3 linked regions of the Homo sapiens genome follow. The protein of the gene in region 1 purifies or fractionates together with the protein of each later gene. This does not show direct contact. Each region holds a gene or a part of one and is shown in the gene's direction. Other genes may lie near its edges.

Region 1 (3,651 bases):
GTAGAGATAATAAATGACAAAATGTAGATGAACATTCTTCAGAAATCATTCTGTGTATGTTTGCACAGATTTTTTTCATGTAGATAAGATTACACTATCCATGTTATTTTTATTTTTATTTTATTTTACTTTGAGACATAGTCTCACTCTGTGCCCAGGCTGGAGTGCAGTGGTACCATTGTAGGTTACTGCAGCCTTGACCTCCTGGGCTCAAGGATCCTCCCAGCCTCCCAAGTAGCTGGGACTATAAGCAGGTGCCACCATGCCCAGCTAATTTTTGTATTATTTGTAGAGATGAAGTCTCGCTATGTTGCCCAGGCTGGTCTCAAGCTCCCGACCTCAAGCAATCCTCCCTCCTCAGCCTCCCGATTACTTAGCGTTTTTGTTCTTAGTGCTGGTTTTTAGTTGTTGCTTTTGTTTTTGTTTGTTTGTTTCTTTGCTTGAGACAGAGTCTTGCTCTGTTGCCCAAGCTGGAGGGTAGTGGCACTATCATGGCTCACTGCAGCCTCAACCTCTTAGGCTCAAGCAATTGTCCTACCTCAGCCTCCCAAGTAACTGGGACTACAGATGCATGCCACCATGCCCAGCTAATTTTTGTATTTTTTGTAGAGATGAGGTTTCACCCTGTTCCCCAGGCTGATCTCAAACTCTTGGGCTCAAGTGATCCTCCTGCCTTAGCCTCCCAAAATGCTGGGATTACAGGCGTGAGCCACTGCACCCAGCTTGCAGTATTTTTAAAAAATGGTTTCATAACATCCCATAGTAAGACTCTACGAGCATTTATGTAACCAATCCCCTGGAGATGGGCATTTTAGCTATTTGCATTTTCCCTCAGATTTATCATAGCATGCAGTGATCACCTTTACACATACACCTTGGCCTAATTGTGTAATTATTCTCTTAACATGAAGTTCCTAGAAGGAGGATTACTGAGTCAAAGGGCACTCGCCCTTGCAGTATTGACAGAGGGTGCCAGGCTACTCAGAATGCACGAGAAGGCCTCTTTCCCCATCCCTCCCCCAGACTGGGTTTGAAGTGTAGGCATCTGGACAGAGTTAGTGGATGATAAAGAAAGAAGTTGGAACCTCATGGTCTTGATCCTTTCAGAAAAGGAGGGGGTGAGCTCATCTTTGGGGAATGAGGTGGGCTGACCTGAGGAGGAACCCAGGAATGGGAAGTGAGGATCCAGATGGCAGGACTTGGCTGAAGCCAAATGCATGCCCCCCTCTGACACTCTCCTGCAGCTCCAGGCTTCTCTAGTGCAATTCGAAGAAAGCAGGCTGAGGATGGAAGGGACCATGGCCAGGAGAGAGAACTACAGGCTCCATGGGGCAGAACTCAACCCTTGGGGACTGGGCTGGGCTTGGAGGTCAGGGCGAATGAGAACTTGGAGGAAGGAGAGCGAGGAAAGGCTGAGTGCATTGGGGATGAAGAAGGCAAGGGGCTTGAGATCAAGCAGATGGAACAGCAATAAGCCTTAAGCTCCAGAGGGCAGGCAGGATGTGTAGAGATGAGACAGTAAATCCCATGTCCAGAGCCCTGAGTTTCAACAGAAAAGCTGCTTCCATTCAAGTTGATGGCAGGAGACAGAATGAAGAATTCATCCAATCCAGGTGATGTCATTGTCCAGAACAGTGTTCCCTAAAGTCAGAGTCCCTCTGCCTCTGAACATAGGTCCCAGAATTAAAAGATACATTTATTTTTCAAGATCTGCAGGAAGTTCCATGACCAAATAAGTCTGAGAAACGTGGAGTTAAACACAGATTTAAATGGGCTTATTATTTTTTTTGGCAGGACTTTTCAAAATGCTTACTATGTGAATGTGAATCTCTAAGATGGCGATAGAGTATGCCATGTTTTCCACACTTACTTGATCAAATAATCCTTTTTCACAAAGAATAATTTGGGACTAGTGTCCCATAGGATATGTTTTGAAACACTGATTTCTTGTAAGTTGGAAATTGGTCCTGGGAGTGATGGGGGTTGGGAGATGGCAATAAATGGCAGCATTAATTGGAATAGGATAGAAAAATAATCCTAATAAAAGTGGCTGCTACTACTATTTATTAAGCATTTACGATGTACCAGGTACTTTTCATATACGTCTCATTGGATTTTCACAGCAGCTCATTGAAGCGGACGATCTCCCCACCATTTACGCATAAGGAACATGAAACTCAGAGGAGGGAAGTGGGGTGCCCATGCGAGACAGGGTAGGATTTGCAGGATCAGGGGTGACAACGGGGATCAAGAGAACTGGTGATTCCTGGCCAGGCATGGTGGCTCATGCCAGTAATCCCAGCACTTTGGGAGACCCAGGGAGGAGGATCACTTCAGGCCAGGAATTTGAGACCAGCCTGGGCAACATAGTGAGATCTTGTCTCTACAAAAAATAAGCAAGATTAGCTGGGTGTGATGGCACACACCTGTAGCCTCAGCTACTTAGGAGGCTGAGGTGGGAGGATCGTTTGAACCCGGGAGGTCTAGGCGGCACTGAGCCATGATCGCACCACAGCACTCCAGCCTGGCCAATAGAGCAAGACCTTGTCTATAAAAAGAAACAAAAAAAGAAAAGAAAAGAAAGCCAGTGATTCCCACCCCTCCCATCCCTCTGAATTCATGGGGTTCAGGGGAGTCGGGGGGGTTGGTGCTGTGGACAGAGAGGAGATCAGTGTGTAAGTAATGGGGGGAGTCTGTTGCATTGAGTGAGTAGCCTAGGTTCTTGTCTCAACTAGAGGCAGCACCAGCCTGCGAGCAGGTATTTAGAAATGGGTGGGCATTCGGGGTTGTCACAATGACCAGGGATTGCTATTGGCCTTTAGCGGGCAAGGCCAGGATGCTGAATGTCTGTGCAGAGTGGGCCGTGCTCATCTAATGAAGAATTGCACCACCTGGAATAGGGTCCAAGTTAGAAAAGTTGAGGGCAAGAAAGTTGTTTAGGATAAAGGGGATTTAGGATAAAGCAGGGATTTACCCACAACCTCTGTGGTTACCAAGAACAGGGTGGGAGGCAGCCAAAGGGATTCAGGTGGAGGTAGCAGGAACCGGGAGGGAAGCCTGTCTCAGAGCAGCAGATGTGGCTTTAGGGATGCAGGAGCTTGAGGATGGGGACCAAAAAAGGGGCGAGTGCTGGAGGAGAGAAACTGGCAGAGCCACGGAAGCAGAAAAGGACAACTTGTTGAGCAAGAAGATTTGAAGGGAAAGGACCTGTGTCTTGAGACCTGAGCGGGCAGGCGGATTCCCAACCGATTACAGACAAACCCACAAAGGAAGCCTGTGGAGAGGGGGTAGTGGCGGAAGGGCTCTAATGAAAACAATTTTGCAACCTTACTTATAGCGTTCTCCAACCTTAAACTAATAGCTATTCTGCACTTTAAATATAGCATTGGCTCCAGAGAAGACTCTGAAATCTTTATTTTTACCGATCCAATTGGCTGTTTTGAAAACCCACTCTGTGAACCCTGCAGAAGATAATTATCAAAATATGTTCCTTGAAGTGCCCAAAGAAAGACCTTTTATTCAGTTCCTCGAATCTCTCCCCCTTGTTGACTCAGATGGAAGAATGCAGTCCCAGAAAGGCGAAAGAGGGAACCAAGGACACATTTTTGGTCAACCAAAAGAAAGCCGGCATTGGTGACCACAGTTGAGTTA
Region 2 (3,651 bases), on another chromosome or scaffold:
CTGGGCAACATGGCAAAACCCCATCTCTACCAAAAAAAAAAAAATTTAATTAGCGGGACATGGTGGCATGTGCCTGTGGTCCCAGCTACACAGAAGGCTGAGGTGGGAGGATTGCTTGAGCTGGGGAGGTAGAGGCTGCAGTGAGCCGTGATTGCCCCACCGCGTTCCAGCCTGGGCAACAGAGTGAGACTGTCTCAAGAAAAAGAGATGAAGGAAGTGAGAAGGTGCTGATTGATACTTACCTCACACTGAGCCTTTTTTCCCCCCACAGACTTATCACTGAACCATTTCACTGGGAAAGTAAAAGGACCACATATTTCTTGGCCGGGCATGGTGGCTCACGCCTGTAATCCCAGCACTTTAGGAGGCTAAGGTGGGCGGATCATGAGGTCAGGAGATCGAGACCATCCTGGCTAACACGGTGAAACCCCATCTCTACTAAAAATACAAAAAATTAGCCGGGCGTGGCGGCAGCCACCTGTAGTCCCAACTACTCAGGAGGCCGAGGCAGGAGAATGGCGTGAACCCGGGAGGCAGAGCTTGCAGTGAGCTGAGATGGTGCCACTGCACTCCAGCCTGGGCGACAGAGTGAGCCTCCGTCTCAAAAAAAAAAAAAAAAAAAAAAGAAGGACTACATATTTCTCAATGAAAATACAGTGTACAATGTTTTCCATGCAGGTGTAAATACTAACTCATGTTCTGTTTCAGGGTGGGAGATGGAATAACCTGTAGAAAGAATCTTTAGATTTGTTTAAATTATACACAAATGATAAGAGATCTTTCTGAAAGTATTGACTTTTTGGCGGGGGAGGGAAGGGGCCTGATAGAACAACCAACAATTGTACACTTTAAGTTTACATTTAGAGTTCACATTAAAAGTTCATTTACAAGGCATCTGTTTGAAATTCGTGAGGATGAGCTGGGCTGGGTGGCTCATGGCTGTAATCCCAGCCCTTGGGTGGCTGAGGTGGACAGGTCACCTGAGGTCAGGAGTTCAAGACCAGTCTGGCCAACATGGTGAAACCCCGTCTCTACTAAAAATACAAAAATTAGCTGGGTGTGGTGGTGGGCGCCTGTAATCCCAGCTACTGGGAAGGCTGAGGCAGGAGAATTGCTTGAACCCAGGAGGCAGAGGGTGCAGTGAGCTGAGATCTCACCATTGCACTCCAGCCTGGGCAACAGAGCGAGACTCCGTCTCAAAAAAAAAAAAGAATAAATCACAAGAAATGGTTCCTTCACTGTTATACTTTAACATGATACAGCTTTTTAATGTTTTATTTTTTGAGAGAGAGTCTCACTGTGTTGCCCAGGCTGGAGTGCAGTGGTGTGATCATAAATTCTTGGGCTCAAGTGATGCTCCCGCTTCAGCATCCTAAGTAGCTGGGACTACAGGCTTGTGCCACCTCACCTGGCTAATTTTTTTTATTTTTGGTAGAAATAGAATCTGTTTGCCCAGGCTGGTCTTGAACACTGGGCCTCAGGCAGTCTTTGTGCCTCAGCCTCCCAAAGTGCTGGATTAATGGTGTGAGCCACAGCACCTGGCCAATAGCTTTATTGAGATTATAATTCAACTATCATGATTTATTCATTTAAAGTGTACAGTTCAGTATTTTTTAGTATATTCACAGAGTTGTGCAGCTGTCACCACCATATAACCTTAGAACATTTCATCATCACCAAAAGAAACCCTATACTCATTAGCAGTCCCTCATATCCCCTGCTTCTACCTAGGTAACCACTAATCTACTTTGTGGCCTATAGATTTGCTTATTCTGGACATTTCATATACATGAAATCATAAAATACCTGATCTTTTATGATTGGCTTTTACTTAGCATAATATAAATTTTTTTTTTTTTTTAATTTGTAGAGACAGGGTCCTGTTATGTTGCCCAGGCTGATCTTGAATTCCTGGGCTCAAGTGATCCTCCTGCCTTGGCCTCTCAGAGTGCTGGCATTATAGGTGTGAGCCACTGCACCCAGCCATTAGCATAATATTTTAGCTGGGCACAGTGGCATGCTCCTGTAGTCCCAGCTACTAGGGTGACTGAGGCAGGAGGATCACTTGAGTCCAGGAGTTTGAGGCTGTAGTGAGCTATGATGGCATCACTGTACTTCAGCCTGAGTGACAGAGGTAGACCCTGTCTCTAAATATTTTAAGGTTCATTAAAATAATATATTTTCAATAAAATAATATTTCAATAAAATAATATTTTAAGGTTCATTCATGTTATAGCATATGTCAGTGTATGATTCCTTTTTCTGGCTGAATAATATTCCTTTGTATGGATATACCAGGTGTTTAACATTTTGAGGAACTGCTGTACAGTTTTCCAAAGCAGCTGCACCATTTTATATTCCCACTAGCAAAGTATGAGGGTTCTAATTTCTCCACATCCTTGTTTTTACCTACCTTTTTTTATTATAGTCATCCTAGTGAGTGTGAGGTGGTATCTATGGTTTCAGTTTGCACTTTCCTAATGACTAACGGTGTTGAGCCTCTTTCATGTGTTTCTTGACTGTTTCCGTATCTTTTGGAGAAAAGTGGGTTCAGATCCTTTGCCCATTTTTTAATTGGATTATTAGTTGTAAGAGTTCTTCATATATTCTGGATATAGGTCCCTTATGAGATACATGATTTGCAAACATAACCCCGCTTCTGTGGATTGTCTTTTTACTTTCTTGACAGTATCATGTGCAACAGAAAGTTTTTGATGCTGTCCGATTTCTCTGTTTTCTTTTGTCACTTGTACTTGTTATAGTATCTAAGAAACCACAAAGGCCATGAAGATTTATTTCTATGTTTTCTTATCAGAGTTTTATAATTTTCTTATAAATTTGGGTCTGTGATCTGTTTTGAGTTCATTTTTGTGTATGGTGTAAGGTAGGGGTCTGAATCCATTCTTTTGCCTGTTGATAACAAGTCGGTCTAGCACCATTTGTTGAAAGGACTGTTCTTTCCCTGATTATATTGGTAGCCTGTAGTATTGGTTTTTATATACTATTACAATTTTGGGAAAATTCAGTACAGAATTACTTGGAGCATGTTGATTTGTCTGAGAAAACTGTGAATACCAGTTTCATGATTTTAGGGTAACTACAAAATGTATATTATATTCTATCCTTTGTCAGATGTGTTAATTTAATCGTTTTATATAAGGTAAGAATGCTGTACCTCTGTCTAAACACAGAAATAACATGTATTTTAATATAAAGAATGTGGAACTTCTAAACTTTGAGGCTAATTTTTCCTGCATAAATTCTCAAATTATTGTGACATGATATTTCATAACTTTACTAGTAGAATCCTTCCCTGTGTTATTAAATATCCACTAAAGTCTCTAGTAAAGGGAATATGATTTACAGAACAAATTTAATGTGTTAGTTTAATTGGTGTTAATTTAATTATAATTGGTGAACTATTACATACTTTTCTTAGTTCCTGTTTTTTTGTTTTTTCTTTACAGCAAAGTATCCAGAGATAAAGTCCTTGATGAAACCTGATCCCAATTTGATATGGATTATAATTATGATGGTTCTCACCCAGTTGGGTGCATTTTACATAGTAAAAGACTTGGACTGGAAATGGGTCATATTTGGGGCCTATGCGTTTGGCAGTTGCATTAACCACTCAATGACTCTGGCTATTCA
Region 3 (3,651 bases), on another chromosome or scaffold:
AGAGTTGCCTGGAGGCAGGAACCCCTTTTTATGAGCAGGCAGTCCAGGAAGGGGACAGGCACTAGCGATAACGTTGGAGGTTGGCCCACTGACATCATGTAACGTCTGGGGTCTGGCTTAAGAGCCAAAGCACTGGGGCATCTCCTGCAGGCCCTGAGGGGTCCCTCTCGTAGGCAGGGACACAGCTCACCATGGCTGTGTGCTGGCTGCCAGGACATCTCAGGTGCAGACAGCTGTGGAGCCAGCTTGATGGATGCCTATTTTACTGTCCTCTTCTTGCCTCTTTTGGGAAGCTTTATTCCCAGAATGCACTTTTCAGAAGTGGGTGGCAGTTTGGGGGTTTTTGTTTGTTTTTTGTTTGAGACAACATCCCGCTATGTTGCCCAGGCTGGAGTGCAGTGGCGCAATCATGGCTCACTGCAGCCTCCACCTCCTGGGCTCAAGCAATCCTCCCACCTCAGCCTTCTAAGTAGCTACGACTACTGGTGCGTGTCTCCATGCCCGGATAATTTTTTAGTTTTTGTAGAGACAAGGTTGCCCTATGTTGTCCAGGTCTCAAACTCTTGGGCTCAAGTGATCCTCCTGCCTCAGCCTCCCAAAGTGCTGGGATTACAGGTGTGAGCCACCATGCCCAGTCATGGTCAGCAGTTTTAATTCCGAAGATTTTTCTTTCCTTTTTTGACTCAGCTTCCTCTCACTGAAACCATAATCAGTCTCATCTCTCCATCACTAAACTTCACCACCCAAGGGTTGGTGGTCCTTGGAGAGAGACTGGGCCAGACAAGGTGATTTCTGCCTAACACTGGGAGGGGCCTTTTTTAGGCCAGACGGCACATGCAATTCCAGCCTATCATCACTATTAAATTCTAATAAAGATAAAAGTATTTCATTTCAGAAAGGGGAAGGCCTGCGTGCCTCAAACCCGTAATCTCAGCGCAGGTCAGCTTTCCACCTGCCCCTCACTGGACAGACTTATCAGGTAGCACTACCTTAATTGTGTGTTTTCTTTTTCTTTTTCTTTCTCTCAACCCTTCCTGTTTCGCTTTCCTTCCCTGGCCTTAATTTCTGGATGTTTGGAAACTACAGGACTCTGTTTGGAAACAAGATCAAGTCTGTGGCTAAGAGAGCATTCTCGGGGCTGGAAGGCCTGGAGCACCTGTGAGTATCTCACCAGCCCTGCCCTGAGGCACAGCCTGCTGAATGCGGCTGCCGGGGAGTTCTGCTAGCAATTTAATCGCATCTTTGTAAACTGAGAAACAGGCTATTTGGAAACACCAGCTGCTTCCTTCTCATTATGTCAGCTTCAGCTTTGGCCTTTATGTTGCCTATGCCAGGAACAGTTACAGAACATATGGCCAGTGGATGTGCTCCCAGTTAATTCAGTTGGTATTTGGATAAATACCCTCCCCCCTCCTGCTGCGCAGCCTAACCCCTGCACTGGCTCCTTCATGGACCCCTGGCCTCATTGCCTCTTCCACCAACGCGCTTCCTCCTGGCCAAGCCTGTTGCCTCCATTAAAGCAGCTTAACAATGCAGAGTAGGTGCTGGGCTGAACCAGTTTGGTGTGGTTGCTTCTGAGACCCTGGGAGGAAGGGAACAGAGCCACCCGAGACAGTCATGCTGTTGCCATCTGGGGAGGATGCCTCATGTATGTGATTCTTAGTTTGTTTCCTCTTTGAATCAAGTTTGACTCTAACTCTGTTGGGAAAGGTTTTGCCTTGCTGAGCAGGCCTCAGCCCAGCTTTGATGGTGCCCTAAGGCTGGCTTGGCTCCTGAGTCATTCCATGGGCTTGTGTTGCGATTTGGGAAACAACAGCCACTTATAGTAGTTAGGACACAGGTCTGGCTAGTCCCTGTGGGTCATCTGTGAAACCAGGACTGTCCTGAAAACCCCTCAGGTGTACCTAGGGTTTCTTTGCATAAGTAATGTATGTTCTGTTTCAGGAACCTTGGAGGGAATGCGATCAGATCTGTCCAGTTTGATGCCTTTGTGAAGATGAAGAATCTTAAAGAGCTGTAAGTATCTGGATTCCCTGGGTCTGATTAATGGTAGTGGAGACTTTCAGAGTAAGAAACTTCTGCAATTGCATTATGCTCACTTGTTAAAAGTTCACATGGTACATATTTTGGATTTTGTGGGCCACAGAGTCTCTGTCATGACTACTTGATTGCATCATTGCAGCAGAAAGCAGCCATAGACATTACATAAGCAGGTGGGTGTGGCTATGTGCCCATAAAGTCACATTGACAGAAGCAGGCAGTCGGGCCGCAGGCTGAAGCTTGCTAACCACTATTCTAGGCAATGTGAAATATACTCTCCTCTATAAAGTGGATAATCACCCCTTCAATTATGTCAGGGCCAAGTTTTCATCTTTTGGGCTTGCTTACGATAAAGGCCTGTGTTGAGAGGGTCTACTTCAGAGCCTGGTGGGCTGTGAGCAAGGCAGAGCTCTGGAGGGGATGGGATGCTTAGGGGTGCAGTGGTGTCTGCCCATACCATTTCCAAGCTTTCTGGGCACGGTTCACAGGTGGTGGTGCTGCCACTGTGGACTTGGACTGTGGGCTCTTGGGTGACAAGGTTGGAAAAGCTTCCCTGTATCCTACTCTGGCAGGGGAGCTAGTCTGGGTCCTCAGGTGTAACACCCAAGTTTTCCTTTCTGGTTTTTTTTTTTTTTTTTTAGCTAGACATGAATCTGATTCTACAGCCAGTAAGTTCTAGCCATGATATCAGTTCCCTGAAGGGGTAACTTTTGGTTCCTAGAAGTGCTGACAGAATGGCAGATGCCACAGGACAGTCATCTTTGTGCCCTGACCTCATCCCCATTCCCCGAGGCCACTCTTGATGAACCCTCAGTTGGGGCAGGGAGGCTGGGACTGGGGAAATGAGGTGCATTCCCCATAGCTGGGAACTGAAGCGGGCCGGGTGACACCAGACTGAGTGAGGAGGGAAGGTGGCCTGGGCACTTGCCCTGTGATGTTCAGCATGCTGTGAGCCTCAGGCCTGCTGAATAGATACCGTCCTTGCAAGGGTTGGATCTTGGAGCGGGTGTCTGTGACGGGTTCATGGAGCTCAGGGCTCTGCAGACAGCTGCTCCGTGCCCAGGGCCTTCCCTCTTCCAGCCTCAGCAGCTCTGCCTCCATCTGTCGGGTGAGACGGAACATACAGAAAGGATTCCATGGCTCTCCTTCCAGAGCAGGGGAGGAGATGATTCCAGACCACCGTGGAAGGGAAGGCTGGACTCAGAGGTGGACTCGCAGTAAAGCAAGTGGAATGAAACATTGGTTGTAGAAGACAAGCGGTGGGGCACAGGAGCATTCACTGTGGAATTCTTTCACCTTTTCTGTCTTTGAAACTTTCAGATATGATGTCAGGACTGAAAAATACCTGATTCAATTTAAACGGGAAGAAGGTATTTTGAGAGAAGGAGGGAGGAGGATAAGATTTTCCTTGGGAAGTTGGGAGGAACTGGACCCTTCCAGAAGCTTGGACCTCCAGCGTGCTTCTGCATGGTTCTGGAGGCTCAGCCTCGGTCTCCTGCCTGGGTTTCCCATCGTTGCTGCATATACCTCGCTGGAGCCGGCCCTGTGCCCAGTCCTCAGATGAGAGAAATGGTTAATTCCACTTGGTCGTCTTTTTCTCCATCAGATCAA

What was found.
Region 2: the proteins of SCARA3 (region 1) and DEGS1 purify together in Homo sapiens (affinity purification with mass spectrometry; 3 studies listed by BioGRID and IntAct, with this or other methods). This does not show direct contact.
Region 3: the proteins of SCARA3 (region 1) and LRIG1 purify together in Homo sapiens (affinity purification with mass spectrometry; 3 studies listed by BioGRID and IntAct, with this or other methods). This does not show direct contact.

Annotation. Positions count from the first base shown.
Region 1 is NC_000008.11:27,640,273-27,643,923, forward strand, and holds part of SCARA3 (scavenger receptor class A member 3), read left to right. Parts: intron 1-3,651. UniProt on the Homo sapiens protein: Seems to protect cells by scavenging oxidative molecules or harmful products of oxidation.
Region 2 is NC_000001.11:224,186,110-224,189,760, forward strand, and holds part of DEGS1 (sphingolipid delta(4)-desaturase DES1), read left to right. Parts: intron 1-3,467; coding exon 3,468-3,651. UniProt on the Homo sapiens protein: Has sphingolipid-delta-4-desaturase activity. Converts D-erythro-sphinganine to D-erythro-sphingosine (E-sphing-4-enine). Catalyzes the equilibrium isomerization of retinols.
Region 3 is NC_000003.12:66,396,477-66,400,127, reverse strand, and holds part of LRIG1 (leucine-rich repeats and immunoglobulin-like domains protein 1 isoform 1 precursor), read left to right. Parts: intron 1-1,086; coding exon 1,087-1,158; intron 1,159-1,944; coding exon 1,945-2,016; intron 2,017-3,651. UniProt on the Homo sapiens protein: Acts as a feedback negative regulator of signaling by receptor tyrosine kinases, through a mechanism that involves enhancement of receptor ubiquitination and accelerated intracellular degradation.